Linked DNA regions of Homo sapiens. The protein of the gene in region 1 interacts with the protein of each later gene in a pairwise test. Each region holds a gene or a part of one and is shown on either strand. Other genes may lie near its edges.

Region 1 (3,494 bases):
GGAGAGTGAGGGATATAAAAAACTACATATTGGGTACAATGTACACTACTCAGTTGACATGAGCACTAAAATCTCAGATTTCACCACTATACAACCCACCCATGTAACAAAAAAACATTTTACCCCAAAAGCTATTGAAATAAGAAAAATTAAAAAATATATAAAATTCCTTGCATAGTATCAGCAGATTCTGGGCTTCTCAACAAGAATTGGAAGAGAGAAGAGAGAGGAAAAAGGAGCAAGAGTCATTTGTTACATTTATTACAGTCATTAATATTATTATTTTTCAAAATCCGGCTTGGGGTTCTTCAGTAAATGGTAAAATTAAGAGCATTCTTCTACAGATTACCTACTTGAGATTTTTCTTCCTTGAGCCTTGCTAATTAAAAAATATCATAAATGTTCTAACTAGGCCATTGACATTTATTTTCAATAATTGCAAGGGGACTTAAATAACCTGTTAAAGGACATGTTAATATTACTCTACACTTTAACTCACTGCGACTTGATGTTAATACTAATTTGTAGAATTAGTTACATGGAAAATAAATTAAGTTCATGGGACAAATGGGGAATCTGAGATCCCTTTTCCAAAACCCAGGGTCTAGCAGAGCATATAGGAAGTGAAGCAAACTAGCACAACCATCCAACTTAACACATTCAGTGGCATTTGGAGCTGTGGTGGGGAAAAGAGGCTCCCTAGTTAATTTCACACTTCCTCCATACATTTCAAAAAGCAAGGTGTGACTCATTTCAAAAAACAAGGTGCAGCTGGGTTTGTTAAAAAAGACTTTCCTTAGGCTAAATGCCAGGTATTCTGCAAAGTCCCTGGCTTAAGGGAGTTTTCTGTTTCCTAGTATCTGTTTGCTGTGCGGAATCCAAATCTGCTCGGTAACAGCAAGGGTTTTATGCCTCTGGTAGGATGTTTCCTGCTCTTTAAGGCTCTAGGCTTACTGGAGTTGCTGGCCTTTGTCGTTCTGAGTGTAGGCATGTTCCGGGCATGTCTGCACTCTATACGACCCAGGGAAATTTACTAAGGTGGCATCCACTGGGTACCTCATGTGTGTGGCACCCCCAGCAACCCTAGGAAATAAGAGCTGTTGTTTTCTGTGTTGGACACATTAGGGAATCAAAGCCCAGAGGGGTTACCTTGTCCCTAGACCATGCTGCTTCTCCAACAATACAGCCCAACTGTGCTGAAATATCTAGCAGGTCCTGGTGGAGGGGATGGAGGCCCTCTCGGGTCACTTTGCTACTCTCCACCAGGGCCCTCGGCCACCCCCTCCTTGCTGCGGATGCCCCAGGTTTGTTTTCTTTGGCTCCCTCATTAATGAGTTCCACAGCACAATGCTAAGTCTAGTTATGCAGCCTTAATTGGTTTAGTTACAACAAGATAATTCCTTTTTTCTTCTCTTGGAGGCCTTTCTGTTTAAAGACATTTTAGCTGGAAGATGCTAATTATCAATGAGGAGAAAATGACACCTGAAGAGTTCATTTTCCATCTTGGTCTTTGGTTTTTCCTTTGAACTCTCTTTACACGGCCCTCTTTCCCACTTCATCACTTCTCCCCCACCGTCATAAAAGAGAGCTCTTCCCTGGCCAGGCGGCAGAATTTTCTTTCTCACTTGCCAGGGAGCCATTCCTTCTGCAGCTGTCTCGCAGGCATGGACAACCTGCGCGAGACTTTCCTCAGCCTCGAGGATGGCTTGGGCTCCTCTGACAGCCCTGGCCTGCTGTCTTCCTGGGACTGGAAGGACAGGGCAGGGCCCTTTGAGCTGAATCAGGCCTCCCCCTCTCAGAGCCTTTCCCCGGCTCCATCGCTGGAATCCTATTCTTCTTCTCCCTGTCCAGCTGTGGCTGGGCTGCCCTGTGAGCACGGCGGGGCCAGCAGTGGGGGCAGCGAAGGCTGCAGTGTCGGTGGGGCCAGTGGCCTGGTAGAGGTGGACTACAATATGTTAGCTTTCCAGCCCACCCACCTTCAGGGCGGTGGTGGCCCCAAGGCCCAGAAGGGCACCAAAGTCAGGATGTCTGTCCAGCGGAGGCGGAAAGCCAGCGAGAGGGAGAAGCTCAGGATGAGGACCTTGGCAGATGCCCTGCACACCCTCCGGAATTACCTGCCACCTGTCTACAGCCAGAGAGGCCAGCCTCTCACCAAGATCCAGACACTCAAGTACACCATCAAGTACATCGGGGAACTCACAGACCTCCTTAACCGCGGCAGAGAGCCCAGAGCCCAGAGCGCGTGAGCTCCATCCGGGGAAACTGACCGGTTCCAGCCTCCTGAGCAGGAGTAGAGGAGTTTTGAAGACCTGGATATCTTATTGAACAATGATCGGCGTAGAGTGATTTTTATGTAGTAAGCCTGATAATCTTGTGATCTGAAAAACCCTAAGGGAATTCACATGTAACCTGTTGGACCCACCAGAACACTTACCTGCCAGATGAGCAGAGACTTTCACCTCCAGTTTTTTCCACCCATCTGGGAGGCTCATCCTTTGCAAACAGACAGATTATTTTGCCCTTCTCTGTCTGTTCAAGGTATTTTAAAGGGTCAGTGATTTTAAATGCATTTTTTTCAATAATGTAAAAGTGTTAATCTCTTGCCATTTTGGCGTTGAGACCTTTTCTTCTGTTGCTAACAAAACCTGTATTTTGTATAGGATCCAGTGTGATATCTGGATTCTTATTTAGAAAGATTTGTGCCAAGTAAAGGGCTTTAGTGCTCCTGTTTTCATTTCGTGTGTATATGTGTGTGTGTTTGTGTTTGACTGAAATCATGCTGTTGCAGGGACCAAAATCACTTAAATGCGGAAGGCACTGGTGTCATGATAAATGGAAAGTCACAGGCAGACAGGCTAAGTTAAGACAGTGAAGATTCCAAAAGCCAGAGCCTCCTCTTCACAGGCAAACAGCTTGTGTGACAGGGAAGGAGGGTACGGGGAGGAGGAGGAGGAGACAGCACCTCAGGGTGGACCTGAAGCAAGGCTGGGTGGGCAGGGTCTCCCTGTCCTTTGTTCTGGGCCTGGTATGAACAGGACCTTATTTAGTCCTTTCACTTACCCGTTTGTCAAATAAAAAGACAGTCTCAGAAAAAAAAAAAAAAAAAAGTGATTCGAATCCCATAAAGAATAACTAAAAGGGTCAGTGTTAGAACTGAACAATCTCTGACCCCTCCAAAGGCATTTACTTCTTCATCTTCCCCTCCTATCCATCTGCCTCCCCCCAACTCCAGATCCCCCACATGCACCCATCACACACACACCCACTCTTCATGGTGCCTTGTCTTAGGGTGGGTATCTGTAGCACCCACAGTTTAGCTCATTTGAATGGCACAGGACATTGAAAAGGGGGCTTTGAATTAAGGAGGTTCTGAAAACTAGTGAGATTTTTTAAGGCTGAATTTTTCTCCCTATGGTTATTAACCATTAGTATTTGTTGTACATGTCTCCTATCATCTTTTTTCTATTGGTGATTTTGTTTTCTTTTTAGTGACA
Region 2 (3,655 bases), on another chromosome or scaffold:
CAAAGTGGGAGGATCACCTGAGGCCAGGAGTTCAAAACTAGCCTGGGCAAAATAGCAAGACCCTGTCTCTAGAAAACAATATATTTTTTAAATTAGCCAGGTAGGGTGGCAGAGGCCTGTAGTCCCAGCTACTCAGGAAGCTGAAGCAGAAGGATCACTTGAGGCCAGGAGTTTGAGGTTGCAGTGAACTGTTGTTGTGCCACTGAGCTCCAATCTGGGTAACAGAGTGAGACTCTGTCTCTTAAAAATAAATAAATAAAAACAAAAAATTAAAAAAGAAGATAGCTGGACTCTCATATCTGCTTCTACTCAATCTTTTGTAATACGTTTTTCAGTTGGAGAATACGGAGTGCACAGATATGTAGTTGGAAATGATTGTGCATATTCTTCTTTGATACTATATCAAAATTCACCATGTGGTAGCTCCTTAAAGGTTAGTTGCAATGTGGAATCTGAAGCCGTTTCAATGAACTTTTCATTCTATGTTATAATAAAATCCATTGGTCTACATTGCACTTTGAGTCTACCTTTTATCTATGCACAGTTTTGTAACTTTATGCATTACTTACTGCTTCCCTGAATTATGCAGATCCTCCAAATGTTGATATATTTCATAATATGCTTTGAAAAGTAACATTCTGAAACATCTTGAAACATACTGCTTCAAAAGTAACATTCATATTCATTAATATCACTAACGAACTCACCAGAAAAATCTTTAAGTACCAGGAAGCTGCCAAGCTGCCAAGATAGATAGGAATCCTCCAAAATTCTAATTTTTGTTTGAAAGCTTGCATATTATCATTGGCAAAATAATAAGAAGAATGTCAGATGTTTGCCTTGACATTTTAGGCTTACTTCATTTATTTTTCAGAAAATTTTGCCAAACACCCAAATCTAAATAACTACAACTTGACTGTCAATTATCTAAGTAAAAATGGCGTTTCAGAAAAAGAATAGCTAGCTCATACTGCATCTCAAACAACTGCACACATGCTCTCTCTTGAGACAATCGTGGCACTTCGGAATATAAAAGTACTTTAGATGTACCACCCATGTGATCGTACACAATATTGAAAATGAATATACTCAATGATCAGTTCCAATAAAATTAATATTTTTGACACTTCAATCAAAACATTAAGTAAAACTAGCGGTTTTTGTTTTCTTACTGAGAGTGCATGGCAGTGAAGAATACGAGATGACTACTAGTACAGTTTGGTGCCACCACCTCGATTTGTGTTAAGGTGCTAAGAGTTTTACTCACTGCTGCTTTTGCACTGTCAATGTGTGCATTAACATAGAGAAGATGGCAAATGGTACCTTTGTATAGTATTATCATAAAAATAGCTTGACCTTACAAACTCCCTGAAAGTGTCTTGGGGACCCCTTTGAACTCAGAGATCACACTTTAAGAATAATGCTCTAAGGTGACAACTGAGCAGAGACTTAGGCTAACCAACCATCAAGATTTGCATGGGGCTGTCCTAGTGTTAGCACTAAAAGTCCCACATGATTCTACTGGGAGAGATCTAAATGAAGTGAGCGTGCATGACAGAATAACAGCTAATGGAATCAGCATTTCAAGCAGAGGAAACAGCAAGTGCAAAGGCCCTGGGGTCAAAGAATGATTGGCATATCCAAGAAAAAACAGCCCATTACAAAGGTTCACACCCCCATAAACCTGACTGTCCTCAGGAAGGTGAGCTACTGGACAATGTCTAATACAATACTCAAAGGACACTCAGTGACCTTTTTTGCCTATTTCCAAGTTTTGGATAATTACTCATGACAAACATGATAAGGCTTTCTTTATAGAATTTCATAGAGAAAATGGAAACAAATTTTTTCTTTAAATGAGAACTTCAAAAATTTTGAGTTTACAGTTAGGTTTATATAGTTGAAATTGCTTGATGTCAATCCTGTAATTCAGGAAGGAAGGTGTTATATAATTTATTTGCCAAGTATTCATAGTGTGATTTAGCAGTTGCTCAATGAATGTTTGTTGAATGAATAATTGCCAACTATAAAATTAAATATTGGTAGGATCTAAATTTTTTTGATTAAGTGTAAAGAAAGAAAAAAGCACTCCAATTACAAAACTCCATTTCAATACTATAAATGATAATAATTTGTGATTTTGTTCTTTCTCCAATTAGGTAATACAGTACTAAAGGATATGACTTTGCCTGCTGTTCTGGAGGTTTCCTAACTTTTACCAATTAAAATAAAAGAACACATACATATTGAGGTAAAGAAGTAAATGGGGCCACCTTAAGTTACTTTTTAATTTCAATACAATTTTCCTTTAAAAATTCATGAAATATTCTTTTATTATTGTTATGGTGTTTACACAAGTTAAAATTGGAAACAGAAAAAATAAACAAAATATTCACAAAATAGCCTCAGATTTTCCTCCATTTACTCCCTCTTAAGGGAATATGGCATTATATTGAGTTTTATGTAATATGTTTATAAAAATTAAATGTCAAAATTTTAATTATATGCCATTTTTAAAAATAGAAGAAGCTCTTTTAGATGTTTAAAAGAAACTACCAATGTTCTGTCAGTCCTTAATTTTGGTTTGCCCTGTCATCAATACTATACAACTTTTCCTTAACTATCAGAAGTTTTGGATGTATTGGTAAGCATGAATGCAAATCCAGGGCATGTTCTCATTTTTCTGTTTTCATATTACCAAACCTAACCAGGCATAGTGTAGCTGTCCAATTCATAAAGTACTCATACTATATAACCTGAGACTTTTGCAACCATATATTTTAAAAGACTCATTGAGCCCTGCAAGGCAAATGCTATCATTCAAGTTCTAATTACATGCTATCCGGGTTTTACATAAAAGAAAAAAAATGAATACTGTACTTCCCAAATACATTTATTGACCAGAAACAACATCCAAAATAAATGCCCCCCAAATTTTCTGAATGTATGACTGTACAATAGCTCAAGCACTGCTCTATTCAAATTATGTTCTATTAATAGTTTCTCCTTGTGCTGCTACTGTTTGATAAATGGGTCAATAAATGCCAAGTCAAATATTCAAGTAAATATATTTTCATTGTTATTGGCAGACATATAATTAACTCAGAATAAAAGAAACAAGAAATCAATTTAGGATTAGTTCTTCAGTTCTTCCCATTAGTCATATGCATTATAATTGTGATTCCACTTTTAAAATCTTTATGCACATATACATACCATCTTGACTATAATACAAATCAAACTATTTCAGTTATAAATTAGTATTGTATGAACTGTGACCCTCATATGTTAATTTTATTAGTAAGATACAAATGTATTATTACCCACATATATGAGCTGGTTAAAAAGCAATGCATGCTTATGAACCTATATTAATTAGTAATTTCAACAAATGTTTCTAAACAATGGTAGGCCTTTTCTGTCTTCTTTCTAGTAAAAACAACTGAATCAACATTTTTTAATGTATGTGTATATATCAACAAATTACATTTCCATTTGCAGACAAAACAAAACTTTGCTAACAAAGAAAATATTACAGAGTAACATTAAAAAATATATTATATCAGGTCAATATCCTCACCAATCCAGGAAAAATGCATTTTGTACAAAAACTTGTATAAGCAACCTTTTAAAAATATTAACCTAAACAAGATAC
Region 3 (3,655 bases), on another chromosome or scaffold:
TCAGCAAGAGGAATGTGGCAGGAGAGCAGGGTGATAGTGGGGAGAAGATCAGCAAGAAAACACGTGAGCAAAGGAATCTGTGTCACGAATAAGTTCAAGGGAAGGTACTATGCCTGGATGTGCACGTAGGCCGGATTTATGCTTCTCTCTACCCAGACATCTCAGTGGAGTAAAGAGTAACAGAGCAGCATTGCTGCCAACATGTCTCGCCTCCCGCCACAGGGCGTTTTTTCTCCTATCTCAGAACAAACGTACAATCAGGTTTTATACTGAGACATTCAGTTCCCAGGGGCAGGCAGAAGACAGAGGCCTTTCTCTTATCTCAACGGCAAGGGGCCTTCCTCTTTTACTAATCCTCCTCAGCACAGACCCTTCACGGGTGTCAGGCTGAGGGACGGTCAGGTCTTTCCCATCCCACCAGGCCATATTTCAGGCTATCACGTGGGGAGAAACCTTGGACAATACCTGGCTTTCCAGGGCAGAGATCCCTGCGGCTTTCTGCAGTGCATTGTGCCCCTGGTTTATCGAGAATGGAGAATGGCGATGACTTTTACCAAGCATGCTGCCTGTAAACATTTTGTTAACAAGGCACATCCTGCACAGCCGTAGATCCCTTAAACCTTGATTCCATACATCACATGTTTCTGTGAGCTCAAGGTTGGGGCAAAGTTACAGATTAACGGCATCTTAGGGCAAAGCAATTGTTCAGGGTACAGGTCAAAATGGAGTTTCTTGTGTCTTTCTTTTCAACGTAGACACAGTAACAGTCTGATCTCTCCTTCTTTTCCCTACACCAGCCCCGCCTCTTCTACAAGTCCTCCAGCTGCCAACCACTATATTCTTGGCAACTTGAGTTCCTCACCCCTTAGCAGATGTTTGGAGTAAAACGATAACTTCCATCTGTTTTTTCAAAGATTTTCTATAATAAGCATGTGCTAATTTTTTAGTCAGAAAGATTAATGTTCAGTATTTACATCCATCCATCCATCCATCAATATTTGGCCCTTGGTCCAGAAAAATATTGTGATTTGTTGTTAACCCACAGACACGAGAGATTTAAGATGCACCTCCTTGAGTGCTGGTGTCAAATGGCTGTCTCCCAGCCCAGTCTCATTGGCTCTTATGGACGCCGATCTGCAAACCACCTCCAAACCCTCAGGCAGCTGCAGGGTCTAGCAGGCTTCCCTATCCGTGTGTTATTATGGTTTGCCCTCCAGGTCAGCATTTATGGGGAGATAGATGGGCAAGCTCTAGACCCTGCCATTTCCCTCAAACCAGTGCAGCCAAGGGGGCACACAGGATGTCCCAGCTGCTTTAAAACAGCTGCCATCTTTAAACAGAAAAAGTCAGGTTTTTTCGAGTAGTAACCAGTTTTTACCTAAGGCAGGAAGGGAGGGGACCCAGTGCTGTAAACAAACCAGAGCCTCTTGTCTCCTTTGCTCTGGCCAACCCAGTCTTGCTGACTGTGCTACTCACAAGTGCCAAGTTCAGAGGAGTGACTGCATGGCAAGGCTCTTTGGGCCACTGAAGGCACCCTCCCTGAGGCCCTTCTCTGAGGCCTTGCACTTTGTCTCCAAGCGAGAACACCCTAATGTCCTTCCCAAGAGGAAGGGTGTTTGCAGTAGACATACTGCAAGCCCCCTCCCCACGCCCTGTCTGATCTCATGGTGTGTGTGCATTGGAAGATGAGTTGATCCGGGAGGTCACCATCAACTGTGCGGAGAGGGGGCTGCTGCTGCTGCGAGTCCGGGACGAGATCCGCATGACCATCGCTGCCTACCAGACCCTGTACGAGAGCAGCGTGGCGTTTGGCATGAGGAAGGCACTGCAGGCTGAGCAGGGGAAGTCAGACATGGAGAGGAAAGTGAGTGGGGTTTACCGTGACCCTTGGTCCCATCTCTTCTGTAAACCTCAGGGCCACATGCTTATCATTCCAGCACTACATTCTGACCTCCTAAGGTGCTCTGCTGACAGTCACGACACCTGGACTTGCATCACCTCAGTGAGGGACCCCTGGTTGAGTATGATGGCCAGCCTGGTGGTCTTGGCAGAGTTGTTTCCGCTGTAGACGCTCCATGCCAGGCACTGACCTCCCACTGGGTGGCAGTATATACCCTGGCAATGTCATGTCCCATGTCCCTTCCACCCAGGCTCACACCATTCCATTCACCTGGCGACATCCCAGGATGACTGGGCATTCTCTCCTCAGATCGCAGAATTGGAGACGGAAAAGAGAGACCTGGAGAGGCAAGTGAACGAGCAGAAGGCAAAATGTGAAGCCACTGAGAAGCGGGAGAGCGAGAGGCGGCAGGTGGAGGAGAAGAAGCACAATGAGGAGATTCAGTTCCTGAAGCGAACAAATCAGCAGCTGAAGGTAATCAACGCGCAGGGTGGGGTGGAGGTGCCCCCTGCCCTGCGACCCAGCCCCACAGGCCAGGCATTCGGTTCCTTTTCCATGGCTTTTAAATGTTTGTCCACATGCACTGCCAAAGGATAAAGGAAGCTGACTTTGGTGGTGGGAGAAGGGGAGGGCTCCAGAGGGGGTCTCTACTCTCAACTCCAAATCTCTGAGGCGCCTCAGCCTGGCTCTCCAGTGGAGGATTCTTCTCCCTGGAAAAAAGTTGCCCATCCTCAAGGAAGAGGTGGATATGGCAAAAAGTGGAACTCCATTCCCCTGGAAGCTGGTATGTTGGAGCCTTTCTGGAGGGGGCTGGGCTCCAGGTGGCTTGCGTGGTAGTGCCATCCCATGGCTGTCTCCTCTGAGGCCCTGTTTCAGGGCATAACCAGGGAAGAAGTCAAAGGGCAGCAGGGCCCTTTGAGAGGAAGAACCATTTCAAATCAGAAACCTTCCCCAGAAATGTGGTCGGGGAACCCAGGCACAGGTGCTCTTCCTCGAAGTCCGATGCCAGCAGTGGTCTTTTATCCAGCTGAGGTGATAGGAGGGAGGGGGCTGGTGGACAAAGCTGGGCAGGAGGCCATGCTACAGGCACTGCAACTCCCAGCTGTTTGGTCCAAAGGTCTCAAAAGGTAGGCCCTAGATCAACATCGTCCTCACCTGGCAAAGCAAGACAAATTATTGGGCCCACCCCAGATCTACCAAATCAGAAAATTCGGGGTTGGGGTCCAGCAATGTGCTTTAACAAGGTCTCAGGTGATTCTAATGTTTGCAGAAGTTTGAGCATCACTGTTCTGGAAAGATGGCCTACTGACATTTAGTGGCCTTCTCCCATGGCCCTGGCCAAAGGACCCTGGATGGATCTCCCTCTCCTCCCTAGGCTCAGATAGAAACCTTACAATCTTGACATTGCAGGCTTGTTTGGTCTACACACCAGCAGGACTGGCCATTTGCGATAAAGAAGGCTTTCTGTTAACCACTACTGGAACTTTTCTTGTTGCACAAAGAAAAGCAAGAAACTTTCACAGCCAGAGATGAATCTGTTTCCTTAGCAGCCTCTGAGGCTGCTTTCCTTAACTGCCATATTCCTTTTTCATAAGCCTGAGTTCCTCAGTTCTTCCTGGATTAGCAACAAGAGCAAACCAAATACCTTAGCATGTTTCTAACATTTAAAAGCAATCTTGTAATCTCCAGGGTGAAAGATTCTTTAGAAGTTGGCATTTTTAAATTTTTTTTCTTTTGAGACGGAGTTTTGCTCTT

Evidence for each region.
Region 2: the proteins of MSGN1 (region 1) and CCDC172 interact in binary tests that used the Homo sapiens proteins (3 or more experiments, as listed by UniProt).
Region 3: the proteins of MSGN1 (region 1) and DNALI1 interact in binary tests that used the Homo sapiens proteins (3 or more experiments, as listed by UniProt).

Annotation. Positions count from the first base shown.
Region 1 is NC_000002.12:17,814,855-17,818,348, forward strand, and holds MSGN1 (mesogenin-1), read left to right. Parts: upstream 1-1,605; 5' UTR 1,606-1,664; coding exon 1,665-2,246; 3' UTR 2,247-2,944; downstream 2,945-3,494. UniProt on the Homo sapiens protein: Involved in specifying the paraxial, but not dorsal, mesoderm. May regulate the expression of T-box transcription factors required for mesoderm formation and differentiation.
Region 2 is NC_000010.11:116,327,338-116,330,992, reverse strand, and holds part of CCDC172 (coiled-coil domain-containing protein 172), read right to left. Parts: intron 1-3,655.
Region 3 is NC_000001.11:37,559,872-37,563,526, forward strand, and holds part of DNALI1 (axonemal dynein light intermediate polypeptide 1), read left to right. Parts: intron 1-1,685; coding exon 1,686-1,864; intron 1,865-2,209; coding exon 2,210-2,374; intron 2,375-3,655. UniProt on the Homo sapiens protein: Involved in sperm flagellum assembly.